Linked DNA regions of Homo sapiens: region 1 is linked to region 2. Evidence: fine-mapped expression QTL. Tissue or cell type: Th1 cells. Region 2 holds a variant in brackets; the other region holds the start of a gene. All regions are shown on one strand. Distances are between the middles of the regions.

Region 1 (8,172 bases), 22 kb after region 2:
TCCAAGAACAGAAAACCAAATACTGCATGTTTGTTCCCACTTATAAGTGGGAGCTAAATAACGAGAACACGTGAACACAAAGAGGGAAATAACAGACACTGGGTCCTACTTGAGGGTGGGAAGAGAGAGATTGGAAAAAATACCCATCAAGTACTATGCTTAGTACAGGGGTGACGAAATAATCTCTATACCAAACCCCCATGACATGAGGTTACCTACATAATAAACCTGCGCACGTCCCCCTGAATCTAAAATAAAAGTTAAAAGGAAAAAAAAGTCTTCAAGTTCTAGATGTCTTCAGCATCCTTGTGGACAGCCCTACCACTGACTTTCAGCCCACTTCAGCCACACACTCATTCATGGTCAGAGTTGTGGAAGGCAGACCAAATCACCATTCAGAGTTGCCCCACCAGTATAAGCAAAGTTCCGACTCTCACGCTTTTTGTCTTCCTCTCCCAGTATTCTTTTGTAGTTCCTGTTTCTCGGATGGCCTATCCTTTGCTTGGTGCACTGAATACGACTGTCTCTCAAAGTGATCCCATGGCTTCAAGGTAAAATTACCTAAGTTTTGTTAAAAAGGCAAATTCGTGTTTTCATCTACTGAGTAAAAATGGAGCAGACTGGATGTGGTGGCTCTCGCCTGTAATCCCAGCACTCTGGGGGGCCAAGGTGGATCGCTCGAGCCCAGTAGTTCACTACTAGTCTGGGCAACAAGGCAAAGACCCGTCTCTACAAAAAAGAAAAATTAGCTGGGCATGGTGGCTCGTGCCTGTAGTCCCAGCTACTCGGGAGGCTGAGGTGGGAGGATCACCTGAGCCTGGGAAGGTTGAGACCCGCCTGGGCAACATGGTGAAACTCTAAAACAATTCAAAATTAGCTGGATTAGCCTGGCGTGGTAGCACATGCCAGTAGTCCCAGCTACTTGGGAGGCTGAGGTGGGAGGATCACCTTAGCCTGGGAAGGTTGAGACCCGCCTGGGCAACATGGTGAAACTCTAAAACAATTCAAAATTAGCTGGGTTAGCCTGGCGTGGTAGCACACGCCAGTAGTCCCAGCTACTTGGGAGGCTGAGGTGGGAGGATCGCTTGAGCCCAGGGAGGTTGAGGCTGCAGTGAGCCATGATGGTGCCACTGCACTCTAGCCTGGGTGACAGAGTAAGACCTTGTTTCAAAAAAAAAAAAAAAAAAAAAAAGGAGGGAGGAAGAGGAAGATCCAGATTAATACAGGCTGAAGTTTAAGAACACAATATGCTTTCCCACAATTATCTCAACCACTGCATGGGTTTAACAGCCATGGCCAGATGATGATTGTTCCTGTATGTCTACTTTAGCTGAGATCTCATTCCTGAGCTTTAGTCCTATCCATCTGCCAGACTCTCCATGGCCAATCCACAGGCAGCACACATGCCCAACACTGAACTTTCCACAAAACCCTGTCCTTTTCTAGAACTCTTCTAGTGTTATGTTCACTAACTTAGCAAATAGTACCCTTAACCAAACAGTTGTTCTATCCTGAAACCTAGATGTCCTCCTTAGCTCCTTCCTTTCCCTACATAGGTCCCAGTCCTGGCTGGGTGCAGTGGCTCACGCCTGTAATCCCAGCAGTTTCGGAGGCCAAGGCGGGCAGATCACGACGTCAGGAGATCGAGACCATCCTGGCTAACATGGTGAAACACCGTCTGTACTTAAAAAAAAGAAAAAAAATACAAAAATGAGCTGGGCATGGCGGCGCGTGCCTGTATGCCTGTAATTCCAGCTACTCGGGAGGCTGAGGCAGAAGAATCGCTTGAACCTGGGAGGCAGAGGTTGCAGTGAGCCGAGATCGCGTCACTGCACTCCAGCCTGGTGACAAAGCTAGACTCCGTCTCAAAACACACACACACACACACGCACACAAACCAATCCTTTAGATTGTATTTTCTTAACATCTTATTTATTTATTTATTTATTTATTTATTTATTTATTTATTTATTTGAGATGGAGTCTGGCTCTGTCGTCCAGGCTAGAGTGCAGTGGCGCGATCTCGGCTCACTGCAACCTCCACTTCCGTGGTTCCCTGCTCAGCTTCCTGAGCAGCTGGGATTACCGGCGTGTGCCACCACACCCAATTACCCTCATGTTAAAGTCGCTGCTTAGCAAGAGGTACAAAACTGTCAGCTCTGACCCCTCCACCACCACCCAACTGAACTTTTGAGTTTTTCAGACACCTGCTCTATCCTCCTGCCTTTGAATATGTGTTTGCTTCCGTCCTGAAACCCCTTCCGGCGCTTTTTTTTTTTTTTTTTTTTTTTTGACAGAGTCTCGCTCTGTTGCCCAGGCTGGAGTGCTGTGGCACAATCTCAGCTCACTGCAGCCTCCGTCTACCCGGTTCAAGCGATTCTCCTGCCTCAACCTTCTGAGTAGCTGGAATTACAGGTGCGCGCCACCACGCCCGGCTAATTTTTGTATTTTTAGTAGAGATGAGGTTTCACCATGTTGGTCAGGCTGGTCTCGAACTCCTGACCTCAAGTAATCCGCCCGCCTCCGCCTCCCACAGTGCTGGATTACAAGCGTGAGCCACCACACCCAGCCCCTTTCGGCGCTTTTTGCCTTCTACACGCACTTCGGGTCTCAGACGCTTTTACTTATTATGGTTGCCCTTTTCCCCTACAGCTCCGTCAAGGGTCTTCTCCAGGAACCCACAGCCCCATAGTTCCCCCATTAACCTGCTCCTGGTTTCCCACCAGGATTAAACCCTAGAGAGTGAACGGAGACCAGTTTAAGGCTCACAGCGGGCGCCGCGTGAATGAGGGAATAAACATTCGCAGAACCAGTAAGAGGTAGGAGCGGACCGACTCACAACCCCCTCACCCATGGGCCGGACGCGGCCAGCGAGCCCAGAGAGACAAGGCAGAGGAAATAGGAAGAGAAAGAGTATCTGTGACAAACAAGAAAAAAGGAACAAGAGACGTAATAGCAGCACTCACGGAGGAAGGGACCTGGGCCCGGCCAGCCGCCATGATGCGCCGGAGCTCCGCCCCCGGGAGGGGCAGGTGCTCGCTTGGGGGTGGGGATGGGGGTGGGGGGGCGCTCGGTGACGTCACCGGTGAGCGGGTTTCCTCGCCACCTCCAGCTCCTTCTCGCTGCTCACCCCCTCGCTTCCTAGAGACTCCGCGAGGCGCCTCGGTGCACCATCCCAACTCCCGACACCCCTGTCTCTTTTCTCTGATTTTTTTTTTTTTAAGACGAAGCCTGGTTCTGTCGCCCAGGCTGGAGTGCAGTGGCGCGATCTCGGCTCACTGCAACCCCCGCCTCCCAGGTTCAAGGGATTTTCCGGCCTCAGCCTCCTGAGTAGCTAGGATTACAGGCACCTGCCACCACCACGCCCGGCTAATTTTTTTTTTTTTTTTTTTTTTTGTATTTTTAGTAGAGACGGGGTTTCACCATGTGGCCAGGCTGGTCTCAAACTCCTGACCTCAGGTGATCCACCCGCCTCAGCCTCCCAAAGTGCTGGGATTACAGGCGTGAAACACAGCCCCTGGCCCTCTCTGATTTTTTTGAGACGAGGTCTCGCTCTATCGCCCAGGCTGGAGTGCAGCGGCGCCATCTCGGTTCACTGCAGCCTCGACCTCCCGGGCTCAAGCGATCCTCCCACCTCAGCCCACCAAGTAGCTGGGATCGCAGGCTTGCACCGCCACACCCGGCTAATTTTTGTATTTTTCTGTAGCGACATGGTTTCGCCATGTTGCCCAGACTGGTCTCGAACTCCTGGGCTCAAGCGATCTGCCCGCCTCGGGCTCCCAAAGTGCTCGGATTACAGGCGGGAGCCACCGCGCCCAGCCTCCGTCTCCCTCCTAAGTGACATCCTGTCCGGCATCCCGCAGGCCTTCAGATGGATGGGGTAGCAGAGCTCAGGAACTCAAACACAGCCCGCCTGGTGGATGACTTCTAAGCATCTTTCAGTCTCCCTGATCTTGCCAAGCAGAGAAGGGCTTCCTCGTAATGCCACCAAAGCACAACTTTCACATGCTTGCTTTATGGCCTTAACTAACTGATGTCATTACTTAACTGTCCCCGCGGGGACGGGGAACTGAATGTATTTTCACAAACGTCAGTTCAAGACAGATTTGTGGGAGAAACCACCTGGGGATAAACCTCTCCCCACCAAGAACCTAGAATTCGGCCGGGTGGCTGGGGAAAAGTGGGCGGGGCGTAGTCGCCCCGGCGCTGGCAGGTCCAGTCTCTGCCCGCGGCGCACGCGGATGACGTAACAAACGCGCGCGACGATTCGAGGTGCTCTGTGGCCGCGAGTGCATCTTCCACGTGAGTATAGTTACCGCGTGCGGACCTGGATCCTCCTCCAGGTGCAGCGTTTCGTCATCTAGCCCAAGCTTGGTCTGGCGGCTTCAGTATCCCCACCGGGCCGAGCTGTGTCTACTTGGTGCCCGCGTATTTGCTTTAGTGGAGGCGTCCATTCGTCCTATCTTGCGTGCGTTCCGCAGACCCCAGGCATGGCCGACCCCCATGTAAATTTAGCCCCATTGTCCCATTCATGGATTCAGCTAACAGAAAGACTGCCGGCCGCCTACTTTATATCAGGCACCATGCTGGTCATGGAATACAGCCCTCATGCACGCAAACCCTGTCTCTGAGCTCTTGAAGCTTATATTTTACTGGGAATGATAGACGGAAATCAAGTGGCTTAATAAACAAAATGCCTTCAGGAAGACTGTCCTGAAAGTTGGGGAGGGGCTGAAGAGTGGTGAGAATCAAGAGTTCATTAAGTCATTCCACAAGTTTTAGAATTTTTTTGCGTTTCAAGCCCTGGTATTGTTCTAAGCCTTGGTAATTCAATGGAAACGAAGCAGCAACATCCCATGCCCACGTAGAGATTTTTTTTCTAGTGGGGAATATAGAGCGAAAAATAAAAACATCCAATAGTGATAAGCGCTTTACAGGAAATTAAAATAGGGCCGGCCATCTGATAGTAACTACTTGAGTGGCTAGTGAAGCCTTTTCCACGAAGGCGAATCACCAGAAATCTAAATAACAAGAGCTAGCCATGCATATGTCAGGGTGAAAAAAATGCCTTCCAGGACTGAGCTTGGCAAGTTAGAGAAATAAAAAAGAAGCTAATGTGTGGTTGGTGCATTGTGGGTGAAAAAGAGAATGGTGTGAGATAGGGTTGGAAAGGTAGGCCAGAGAGTGGCCAGACTTGGTAAACCAGGATGCTGAGTTGGAATTTATACCATGTGTAATGGGAAGCCATAATCCACTTTATGCTGATGTGTGACAAATGAATTGTGGTTATGCAGTGGTCAGGAGGTTAATGCATTGGTCCAGGTGAGTGATGGTGGTGGCTTACTTGAACTAGAGTGAGGTAGTAGAGATGAAGAGATGAGAGATTTGAGACATGATTGGAAATAGATTTCCTGGTGGATTGGATTTAGAGAGTCTGAGGGAAAGAGAATTAAGGATGACTTCTGTGTTTTTGTCTTGAGCAACAAATTGGATGATGGTAGTGTTTACTGAGTGGCAAGACTAGGGGAACAGCAGAGTTTGGTGAGTAAAGCCAGGGTCCCGCTGAGAGGCAGTGGGACCAGAAATTGGATAGGTAGTTTGGGATAGATGGGGAGGGCCTTTGAATGTTAGGCTAAAAGTATTAACTGTAATAGTTCTGTTGCCTGATGCACACTGGAGGTCAATACACCAAGACACCAGGTTGCAGCAGAGAAAGAGGTTTAATCATAGGGCTGCTGAACAAGGAGACAGGAGGAAACCTCAAATCCATCTCCCAGAGTACTTTGGGGCTAGGGTTTTTAAAAAAGAGTTTGGAATAGGATTAGGATGAAGTGTGAAAATCATTGATTGAAGAGTGCAGGGTGAGGTCATGAAACAGGGAGATGAAGAAACTGATTCTCATGCTCACTTGGTTCCACTGTGGGAGTCTTTTTTTTTTTTTATTTTTTTTAATTTGAAAGATGAGGTCTGCCTGGCGCAGTCGCTCACGCCTATAATCCCAGCACTTTGGGAGGCTGAGGTGGGTGGATCACGAGTTCAAGAGATTGAGACCATCCTGGCGAACATGGTGAAACCCCATCTCTACTAAAAATACAAAAATTAGCTGGTCATGGTGGTGTGCACCTGTAGTCTCAGCTACTCGGGAGACCGAGGCAGGAGAATCGCGTGAACCCGCAAGGCAGAGGTTGCAGTGAGCCGAGATCGTGCCACTGTACTCCAGCCTGGCAACAGAGTGAGACCCCATCTCAAAAAAAGAAAAAGAAAGACGGGGTCTTGCTCTGTCACCCAGGCTGGAGTGCAGTGGCACAATCGTAGCTCACTGCAGCCTCAAACTCATGGGCTCAAGCGATCCTCTTACCTCAGCCTCTTGAGTAGCTGGGACCACAGGTACATGCCACCATGCCCCACTAATTTTTAATTTTTTTTTTTATAAAGACAGGGTCTTACCATGTTGCCCAGGGCTGGTCTCAAACTCCTGGGCTCAAGCAGTCCACTGCTTTGGCCTCCCAAAGTGCTGGGATTACAGGCATTGGGATTATAGGCGTGAGCCACTGCTCCTGGCTTCTGTGGGAGTCTTTGAGCTGGTGGAGTCAGCTGTTCTGCTGGAATTCAGGATCTGCTTAAGCAATTCTTTTTTTTTTTTTTTTTTTTTGAGTCAGAGTCTTACTCTGTCACCCAGGCTGGAGTGCAATGGCTCAATCTTGGCTCACTGCAACCTCTGCTTCCCAGGTTCCAGTGATTCTCCTGCCTCAGCCTCCCGAGTAGCTGGGACTACAGGTGCTTGCCACCACGCCCGGCTAATTTTTTGTATTTTTAATAGAGACAGGGTTTCACCACGTTGGCCAGGTTGGTCTTGAACTCCTGACCTCAAGTGATCTGCCCCTCTTGGCCTCCTAAAGTGCTAGGATTACAGATGTGAGCCACCATGCCCAGCCCTGCTTAAGCAATTCTTTTTTTTTGTTTTAATAATTTATGGGTCGGAATGGTGGCGCACGCCTGTAATCCCAACGCTTTGGGAGTCCGAGGCGGGCAGATCACTTGAGGTCAGGAGTTGGAGACCAGCCTGGCGAACATAGGGAAACCCCGTCTCTACTAATAATACAAAAATTAGCTGGGCGTGGTGGCGCATGCCTGTAATCTCAGCTACTTGGGAGGCTGAGGCAGGAGAATTGCTTGAACCCAGGTGGCAGAAGTTGCAGAGAGCCCAGATTGTGCCACTGCACTCCAGCCTGGGTGACAGAGTGAATCCATCTCAAAAAAAAAGAAAAAGAAAATAAATAAATAAATAAATAATTTATGACATGATATCATCAAGCAATAAATTCTTAAACAAAAGCTTTGTGATCAGAGATCCTTTTTTGTTTGTTTGTTTTTGTTTGTTTTGAGACAGAGTTTCACTCTTGTTGCCCAGGCTGGAGTGCAATGGCTCGATCTCAGCTCACTGCAACTTCCGCCTCCCGGGTTCGAGTGATTCTCCTGCCTCAGCCTCTCAATTAGCTGTGATTACAGGCACGCATCACCACGCCCGGCTAATTTTGTATTTTTTTTAGTAGAGATGAGGTTTCACCATGTTGGTCAGGCTGGTCTGGAACTCCTGATCTCAAGTTCTCACTGTGTTGCCCAGGCTGGAGTGCAGCGGCTTGATCACTGCTCACTGCAGCCTCCGCCTCCCCAGGCTCAAGTGATCTTCCCACCTCAGCCTCCCTAGTTGCTGGGACTACAGGCACATGCCAGCACACCCAGCAAATTTTTGTATCTTTTTTGAGAGAGATGGGGTTTTTGCCATGTTGCCCAGGTTGGTCTCGAACGCCTGTGCTCAATCCTCCCACCTCAGCCTCCAAAGGGCTAAGATTACAGGTGTTAGCCACTATGCCCCGCCCAATCTGGCCTCTTCTTATAAGGGCAGATTATAAGAGGTTTGGTGAGATTAGTAGCTCATTCTTGAGAGTTCCACTTTCATGACCTAATTACGTCCCAGAGGCCCCACCTCCAAATACCATAACATTGAGGATTAGGGTTTCAATATATGAATTGGGAGGGGGAGATACACAAACATTCAATCCATGGCTGATACCATTTCTCTCAGGAAATTTTTCCTGACACCTGAAGTGCAGGATTGGTGTCCACAGTCCCCTGACCTTCACCACACGGGACTGGAAATGTCTGGGTACT
Region 2 (8,176 bases):
TTAGAGGTCGTGCCAGGCTTGCTGTAGTGCTGGGTCCACTATGCATGGCGGAACGGTCCGGGCGCACGCTCACGGACCAGCCTCCCCCAGGCCGAGTATTTTGGAGCACTGGGCTGGGAATCTCTTGGCTCCGGGCCGCGAGCTCCGGCTCCTCCCAGGAAATAGCGTCAAGGAAGTGGGAGGGAGTGGCCTCGGCCTCGCCCCCGCGCCGCCTTGCACGACTGCCTTGAACACCCGGGTTGTTGCTTCCTTTGGTTACCGACTTGGTGCCATTCCGTAACCTGGGATCTTGACACTTCCTGCCTCCGCCTGCGGTCCTTGGACCTAGCTCTTCGTTGCAGAGCTTTGAAGAGAAGCGGTGGAATTGCTTGCTTTCGGGACGGGCAGGAGAAATCACTAGGGGAACACCAGTGCCCCGTGTCTGTCTATCCTCCTGGGCTAACGGGCAGGGCAAACCCTGGGCCAGACCCATCGATAGTCCACGGGTTCCCCAGACCGCATGGCAGTACCCAAGCGAGGGAAAGAGGGAACGATTTCTGGGGCCCAGAAGACCCACGGAAGAGGGCGTTATTGAGCTGGGTGACTGGAGGGGGACAGGCTTTCCACCCTGCAGTGGGGCGGGGCGCAAGGCCAGGCGACTAGTCTCATGGCTTCCGGACTGTAAGATCAGGTTACCCCTACCCTACAGTCTAACCTCTGCTCCCCAGTCCCCTCCTAGAATGGCCTAGAAGGGAGACCCTCCTGCCTGCCTCCTAAGACCCCCCGAAGGCTCTGAGGCACGTGGCCGCATGAATGTGGTCGAAGGCCTGTAGACCCGGTTTGGGGACTTAGCAGTGTCCCCGGGACTGCCCAGTGAGCCTCTGCGCTCTTAAACACTCACCATGCTGCTCTTACTCCGGAGCTGCCCAGAGTCCCAGCAAGATCTGGTGGGGTCGGTAGCAGACCACGTGTCCTGCCTTTCCTCAGCTCAGTGCCTGTTCTGGGGAGTCCTCCCAGCGGGGTTCTGGCCTGCATCGGCCCTGGACCAGCCTGGTGTCATCTGTGGAACCATTTTGTTCTACACCCCAGTTGTGTGATTTGTGGGGCCAGGCCGTTCCTAATGCCCAACCCATAGATACGATGACGGGGCTTTCAGTGAAGGATTCAGCTCCTATTTGTCTTTCCCAGGTTCCCCTGGACAGACAGTGGGGAAGGGCAGCAGAAGTTAGCCCAGCCTTTCCCATTAGTGTCCCAAGTCTTTGAGATGGGTAAAGAGGTTCTCAGGGCTGATCTGGCATCTCCTCCCCCATTCCTACCCTTTTCCAATTCCTGTCTCCCTCCCCTTGGGCCCCAGCTTTCTCTGCAAAATAATCCAGTCACCTCTTCCCTGGCCTCAGGCACTTAAACGCTGCAGAAGGGGAGGCCTAAATCCTTTATGACCCTTATGAAAGCTATGTCCCTCTTCACCGGGCACAGTGGCTCACACCTGTAATCCCAGCACTTTGGGAGGCTGAGGTGGGTGGATCACAAGGTCAGGAGTTCAAGACCAGCCTGACCAAAATGGTGAAACCCCGTCTCTACTAAATATACAAAAATTAGCCAGGCGTGGTGGCGGGCGCCTGTAATCCCAGCTACTCGGGAGACTGAGGCAGGAGAATTGCTTGAACCCGGGAAGCGGAGGTTGCAGTGAGTCAATATTGTGCCATTGCACTCCAGCCTGGGTGACAGAATGAGACTCCCTCCGTCTCAAAAAAAAAAAAAAAAAAAAAAAGCTATGGCCCTCTTCCTAAACATGTATACAATCCAGGGAGTTCACACATAATCCCATCCACATACCCCACACTTTATTTTTTCCTCAGAAAAGTGCGTACATAGACCCCACTTTTAATAACCAAGAACTAACAAACAGCTGATCATTCGTTTATTTTATTTCATTTTTTTGAGACGGAGTTTCACTCTTGTTGCCCAGGCTGGGATGCAGTGGCGCGATCTCGGCTGACAACACCTCCTCCCCCCTCCAAGGTTGAAGCGATTCTCTTGCCTCAGCCTCCCAAGTAGCTAGGACTGCAGGCGCCTGCCACCACGCCTGGCTAATTTTTTGCATTTTTAGTAGAGACGAGGTTTCACTATGTTACCAGGTTTCACTATGTTGGCCAGGCTGCTGGTCTGGAACTCCTGACCTCGTGATCCGCCCACCTTGGCCTCCCAAAGCGCTGGGATTACAGGCGTGAGCCACCGCGCCCGGCCATACATGGCAAGTTTCTACATGGTGTTTCAGACTTAGCTGATCACCCTCTACCCTCAGGCCAGATTAGATTCCACTTCTCCCTGTTCTTACAGTGCCGTTAGTGCTGAAAGGGGAACGTGCCTTGTTCATTTGGTTCTGCACAGGGTCCAGCCCAGTGCTTGGCACAAACGTGGTCTCGGCAGTGCTGCATCCCTGGCTTGACCTGGAGGTAGCAATTCCTTCAAGCCATTTGCTCATCTTACATTGGTTCGTGGGCCATGGAATGGTGTCGAGAGCTTTCTGCCTATCTTCCAAGGAGGTTTAGGTCCTGCCAAGAGCTCACAGATCCTATTTCTTGCCTTATCTCTGGCATTTATTTCTTCCTTAACCAGCCTAGCTTCAGTGCTCCAGAAAAGTGCCCTGCCCTTCCACACCAGGATCCCTAGCGACTCCCGAATGATGCTTTCTTGGACTCTGTTCACATGGCCTCAGCCCTTCTGCACCCTGCTGCACGAAACCTGGTGCCAGGCCAGGCCAGGCCAGCCGGATCCCTGCTTACTCCTTACCCTGACATCCCGCTGGTGGAGAGGGATGGAGGTAACTGCAAGTGAAAGACCAGTTAGAGGACCGCATCTGGAAGCTGTGCCAAATTTTAAATACTGTATATTTAAATATATATTTTTATATTATATACTATATATATAACATTATGAGCCACCAAACCCAAAGAACTATAATGAAGAGCCAAACAAAACAAAGTGGCTCAGGTTCTAGGGGACGTCCTAGGGTGGAGAAAGAGGCCTGGAAGGTGGGCAGCCCCTTCCATCGAGGGTGGGGCGGCCGCCTGACCCAGTCCACCTGCACCAGTGGGGTGTGGCATCAGTTAAGCAAAGGACCCTTAGGCCTATGCAACATTTCTGCCCCTAAGTTAGAGAACCACCTTTTAGAGTGGCGATCTCATGGGAGTGGCAGCTTGACTCTGCAGGAAATGTGGGTGCTATGAGTGCAGAACAGAAACTCTTACGCGTTCTGATATAAAAACAATACATGAAAGGATGTGGATTTAGCCGCAAAATCACGCTGTTTCAATTGAATAAAGGCACCGCTGGGATTCGAACCCAGGATCTCCTGTTTACTAGACAGGCGCTTTAACCAACTAAGCCACGGCGCCGAAGCTGCCATAAAGGTTCCTGAAATTCATCTACAAGAATATAGAGCTAGGAACCCGGACCGAGCTTTTTCAGATCTTTCTAGAACTAATTTGGTAACTCAACTGGCTCTTGCATCACTTGTCCATTCCTCGGATTTCCTTCAATGTCCAAAGACGTTAATCATAGATTTCAAACCAAAATCATAGACTCTAAATCAAATTCTCGATTCTAGAGTTCCTAGATGAGAGGTTTGGAGGGTGCCGACTGGATCATCCCATCCTGGAGAGAAATATGGTCAGTATGCTGAAGAAAAAAATATGACGTAGTCGGCAGGATTCGAACCTGCGCGGGGAGACCCCAATGGATTTCTAGTCCATCGCCTTAACCACTCGGCCACGACTACGAGGCTTAGGGCTTCGTTTTCATCCAATGCCTTTCTTACTTCCCTTGACTGACAAACATCTGCCTCCATGAAAGCGCTTCAGGGAAAAAAAGACGCGGCGGTTGCACGTGAACCTTCCTTTCACCCGGGTGCCCAGAGACTCCTCCCTCCAAGCCTTCGGGAGCGCTAGTGATTCAGGGAATAGGAAGCAGTAGGTGCAATATAATTCTGTTACCAGAAGGCAACTGGCTCCGGGTAGAAACTTCCGGATAACAGCAGAGGGTCAGAAAACAAAACACACACAAAAAAAAGCCACCCACTGGCCCGTACGGGGTTCGAACCCGCGACCTTGGCGTTATTAGCACCACGCTCTAACCAACTGAGCTAACCGGCCACTAACTTTCCGGGTCTACTTCAAATCTTAATATAGGGTATTGCTACCATAAAAGCAGCATAAATCCCAACATATGGGTTTAACCACGCTCTAAAGGTCTCCCAAACACGAACAAATCCTAACAGCCAGGAAGAAATGGCCTCCCAGTAGCTCTGAAAGATGTGCCTCAGCTCATCTTTCCACCTCTCCATCTATCAGTCCCCAGTAAAGAAATGCAGCAACACCAGCCAAAGGCATTGGTATCTCCAAAGAATTGTTCCTAGATCCCCTAATTGTACGGTTGTGATTTCGGAGCACCTTCTGGTCTCAAGGTATATCGATCAAGGATCTGCCTTAGGCCAGGCCCTTGGGAAACCTACAGGGCTAACCGTAGCCTGGGGCCCTATAGCACAGTCACCCAGAGTCCTCACCTGCCCCTGCTTGTGCCTGGCACTTGCCTCCCCCTACACCTTCTTTGTGCTTGTGAACACCTCTAGGCATTCAT[A/C]TTTGACTTCCTGCAGGGCCCAGCCTTACTGACTGAGACCATCATAGCTATGCTCTCTGCCTTGCCGCCAACTCCCCAATTTACTTCCTTTACAGACTGATTTTGGTACCATTTCTTCTGCTGGACGAAAAGCTCTTCTCTTCCAAATCACTTTCCACCTTTGGCCCTGGCGGCAAAGGGCTGAAATGATGATGAACGACTAGGAGTTCCTAGGAGGTGGACAACTAGGAGTCAGGAGGCCTGGGACCCCAGAGATGAGTACCAGTGAGAAATGACACCAGAGGGCTTCATTGCAGGTCAATAGGCCTGTCACCATCACCCCACAGCGAGCAAGTCTTTTGTTCCCTCAGCTCCTGCGACAAAGTCAGAACCCAGGTGCTCAGGGCCGCCTGTGAATGCAGGTGCCTTGTCCCAATCAGAGGACATATTAATAGGGCCATGATTTCCTGTTGCCACAATTTTGCCAAGGCAGGCTGGCACCAGAACACCAAAGAAGGGAAATTATAGTGGAGTAGCAGTTTGTGAATCTGGAGTCCTTGGTTCAATCACAGAACAAGTAGGGAGAGGAGCCAGGACCTAGGCCTTCAGGTTTTCAGCAAGGAAGGACTCTCAGGCCATCCTTGCAGTTCAGTTAACAGGAGGAAGCAAGGATCCCCAGAGAGCTGGAGTACTCTGACTCTCGGATAGAAAGGCAGGACAATCGGAGCCTGGGGTTCACGTGAGTCAGGAAAGGGAGCTCTCCACACTGGAATCGCTGTAGCCGAGGAGGTTCTGAGGTGGGAAGAGAGGAAAAACACACGTCTCAGGCATGTGGCTTTTAGTTCCCACCCACCATTCTCCTCCCTAACTCCAGAAATTCCCCATCAGTCCCTCATCCCTCTTCCTCCCAGGGACCCATCTATCTCTATCACCATGATCCCCCTATCATCATGATCCCCCCGTCTCCAACCTTACCTAATGGGACGATCTTCGACGGTTTCCTTTCCAGCTCAAAAGAAAGCACAATAGGACGGAGGACAGAGGGGCTAGTACAAAGTGTCCAGAGGAACATGGTCATGGGCTCGTCAACCCTGGCTGAAGACTAGAAAGAGAAGGTCAAGGTTAACTGGCTCCTAAACCCTTTGCCAAAAGCCCAGGAATTTGGGTATCCGAGTCCCTCCCTCCCAGCCACATTACACCTCAAGTTGGGCTCCAGGCCCTGCAAACTGCAAGACCACTCTGCCTGGCACTTGGACGAAATCTAGGAGGGAGGCCCACTCTCTAGGACACAGCCCTAGTGCTGCTGCCACATGGTGATTCCTACAGGTCACCACGGCTTCGGCAGTCCCATCCTCCACCAGGAGCCTATGGGGAGCAGGAGGAAATAAAAACGCCTATAGCAACCCAGGTTGCCAACACCCTGGACCCAACATGCCTCCCTCCCCGCTGTCTGCAGTCTTTGGCTCACAGATTTAGGAGCTTACCCTCATTCATTCGTTCAAAAAATATTAAGCAATTCTCATGAGCCAGGAATTATGCTAATGTAGAAACTGCAGATAGACAAAGTGGTCTCATAAGTAAATGGCACAATGGGTGCACGCCTTGTGCTCTCACCTGATGATGGCCTGGCTTATAGCTGTCTGCGTAGGGCAAGTGGAGCCCAGGCGAGTGCACTTTCCCTGGGATGAAGACAGTGGTTGGAAAAGTCCTCTTGGTCCCATCACATCCCTCTGGCACTCCATACTCAGTTCAGCCTGTTCCTTCCCTCCCTTACCTGCCGGCAGATGCTGGTACAATAAGCACACACCCAGAAGAGCTGAAGGCTGAAGACAGAGACGATATGGCAAGAGGCAGTGGCCTGGAATGGGGACTGACCACCCTGCAGAAGTTCAGCCAGGTAGATGTGGGGCAGGGGAATGCTAAATAAATACAGGGAGACAGAGACAGGGGTCAAGATAACAGAACAGGCAAAGGGGTTCTGAAAGCAGGGTGGGTCTAGAAGGACTTAGAGGGCATCAGGATGGGGACAGCAGTGGGTTCCATGCGCTCCTAGAAGCCCCATTTTAATTCCTGATCTCTGATAGTCATTGGTTATTTTTCAGGTTTGAACACCATGATGTTAGCCAAGAAATATTTGCATGTTAAGACTGAAAAGCCTTCAAAAGCCTAGAACACTAAATGATTCTGGGTACAATGATAGACACAGAGCATTTTTTATTTGGAGTAGAGAAGCTCCTCTGACTCAACACATCTTGTTGGGATTGGAGAAGACTGTAATGATGGCAAAATCTTCAGAACCAGGGACATGTGGGAGATGCAGATGTGAAGCCAGGAAGTTTAGGGGTTGGGGTCTGGGCACTGACCTGATGGTGGTCTCAGGGGGAAAACTCAGGACCTGCACATAAGTGGATGACCGGAAACAACAATAAACATTGTGAGATCTGCAAGTGGAAGAGGAATAGTGAGTGACCAGGAAGACAAGGCAAATTGGGGTAGAAGCTGGGACTCAGAGATCAAGCACCACAGAGTGGCCACTCCCCCTGAGGGACATATCCTAGCCATGGCTCTACCAAAGCTAGGGGAAGACTAGGAGGAGGACCAGCCTGCAACACCTCGTGAGGGTACTGGCTGGGCACAAATGGCAGACTGATATATGGAAACCTGTATGAAAGAGAAGGGGTCGCTGCAGCAAAGTTAAGCAGGGGTGCACATTCCAGAGAGCCACATCAGTAGCAAGAGGAGGCAGGTGACACTACACATCTTCACCTGGAAACCCTTTTCTCCAACTGGCTGAAGTGGACCCGGGCTCCTGGAAGTAGTCCTAGTGAGGGAGGCAAGTGTGGGTCTTCTATATATACATCCAGGTGAGGGGGGAATTCACATTCAGCAGTCTCAAGAGCGACTGTTAGCTTCACACACCTTCTCATGGCCCCCGTGTTCCCTATAGAAGGAAGGTGGGTGTTAGTAGGATCTGTGAAGTCCACAAAGTCCCATCACTCTATTTCATACCTTCCCCACAAAGGAAGGGTCATTACCCAGTTTCATCCAGAGAGACGCCACAAGGGGTTCACATAGTGTCCGTGACAAAATCTCAGCGGAGAAAGACACCAAGGAATCTGTGAAACTGGAAGGTCAGGGAAATACACTGAGAATGGAGGCACAAGAAAGCACAGAGTGGAGACAGTCAGATTCAAGGCAGAAAATGGAGCTAAAGTATCTGCTAGAACTTCATATATAAAGTCCTGAAAAAACCTGAGCTCTGCCACACTGCACACTAAGAGTAACAGGGCCTATGGGAAAAAGAGGGTTGTGGCAGATCATTCAAAACCCGCACAAGGTGGCTCACGCCCCTAAATCCCAGCACTTTGGGAGGCTGAGGTGGGAGGCTCACTTAAGGTCAAGAACTCAAGACCAGCCTGGCCAACATGACGAAACCCTGTCTCTACTAAAAATACAAAAAAACTAGCTGGGTGTGGTGGCGTGCACCCCTATAATCCCAGCTATTTGGGAGGCTGATGCAGGATAATCCTTCGAACCAGGGAAGTAGAGGTTTCAGTGAGCTGAGATCAGGCCATTGCAC

What was found. PIP is the estimated chance that this variant, and not a neighbour inherited with it, causes the effect.
Region 1: CTC1 starts here. The variant in region 2 is fine-mapped to the expression of CTC1 in Th1 cells (Schmiedel 2018, PIP 0.95).

Annotation. Positions count from the first base shown.
Region 1 is chr17:8,245,038-8,253,209 of GRCh38, forward strand. It overlaps CTC1 (CST telomere replication complex component 1), which reads right to left and starts at 3,019. Exons shown (of 23, transcript NM_025099.6): 1 at 2,967-3,019. The coding sequence starts at 2,999. PFAS (phosphoribosylformylglycinamidine synthase) reads left to right here and starts at 4,252. Exons shown (of 28, transcript NM_012393.3): 1 at 4,252-4,302. RefSeq lists enhancers at 2,816-2,955, 3,436-3,555, 3,680-4,436 and a silencer at 3,046-3,095.
Region 2 is chr17:8,222,932-8,231,107 of GRCh38, forward strand. It overlaps CTC1 (CST telomere replication complex component 1), which reads right to left. Exons shown (of 23, transcript NM_025099.6): 16 at 7,632-7,720; 17 at 7,363-7,537; 18 at 6,960-7,037; 19 at 6,371-6,515; 20 at 6,211-6,275; 21 at 5,796-5,961; 22 at 5,572-5,698; 23 at 1,884-5,388. The coding sequence ends at 5,249. LINC00324 (long intergenic non-protein coding RNA 324) reads right to left here and starts at 1,112. Exons shown (of 3, transcript NR_026951.1): 1 at 881-1,112; 2 at 1-343. TRT-AGT1-2 (tRNA-Thr (anticodon AGT) 1-2) reads right to left here and starts at 3,377; the gene lies at 3,304-3,377. TRS-AGA2-6 (tRNA-Ser (anticodon AGA) 2-6) reads right to left here and starts at 3,760; the gene lies at 3,679-3,760. It also overlaps TRI-AAT4-1. RefSeq lists enhancers at 1-729, 276-405, 656-895. The variant A/C (reference allele first, on the strand shown) is at 4,618.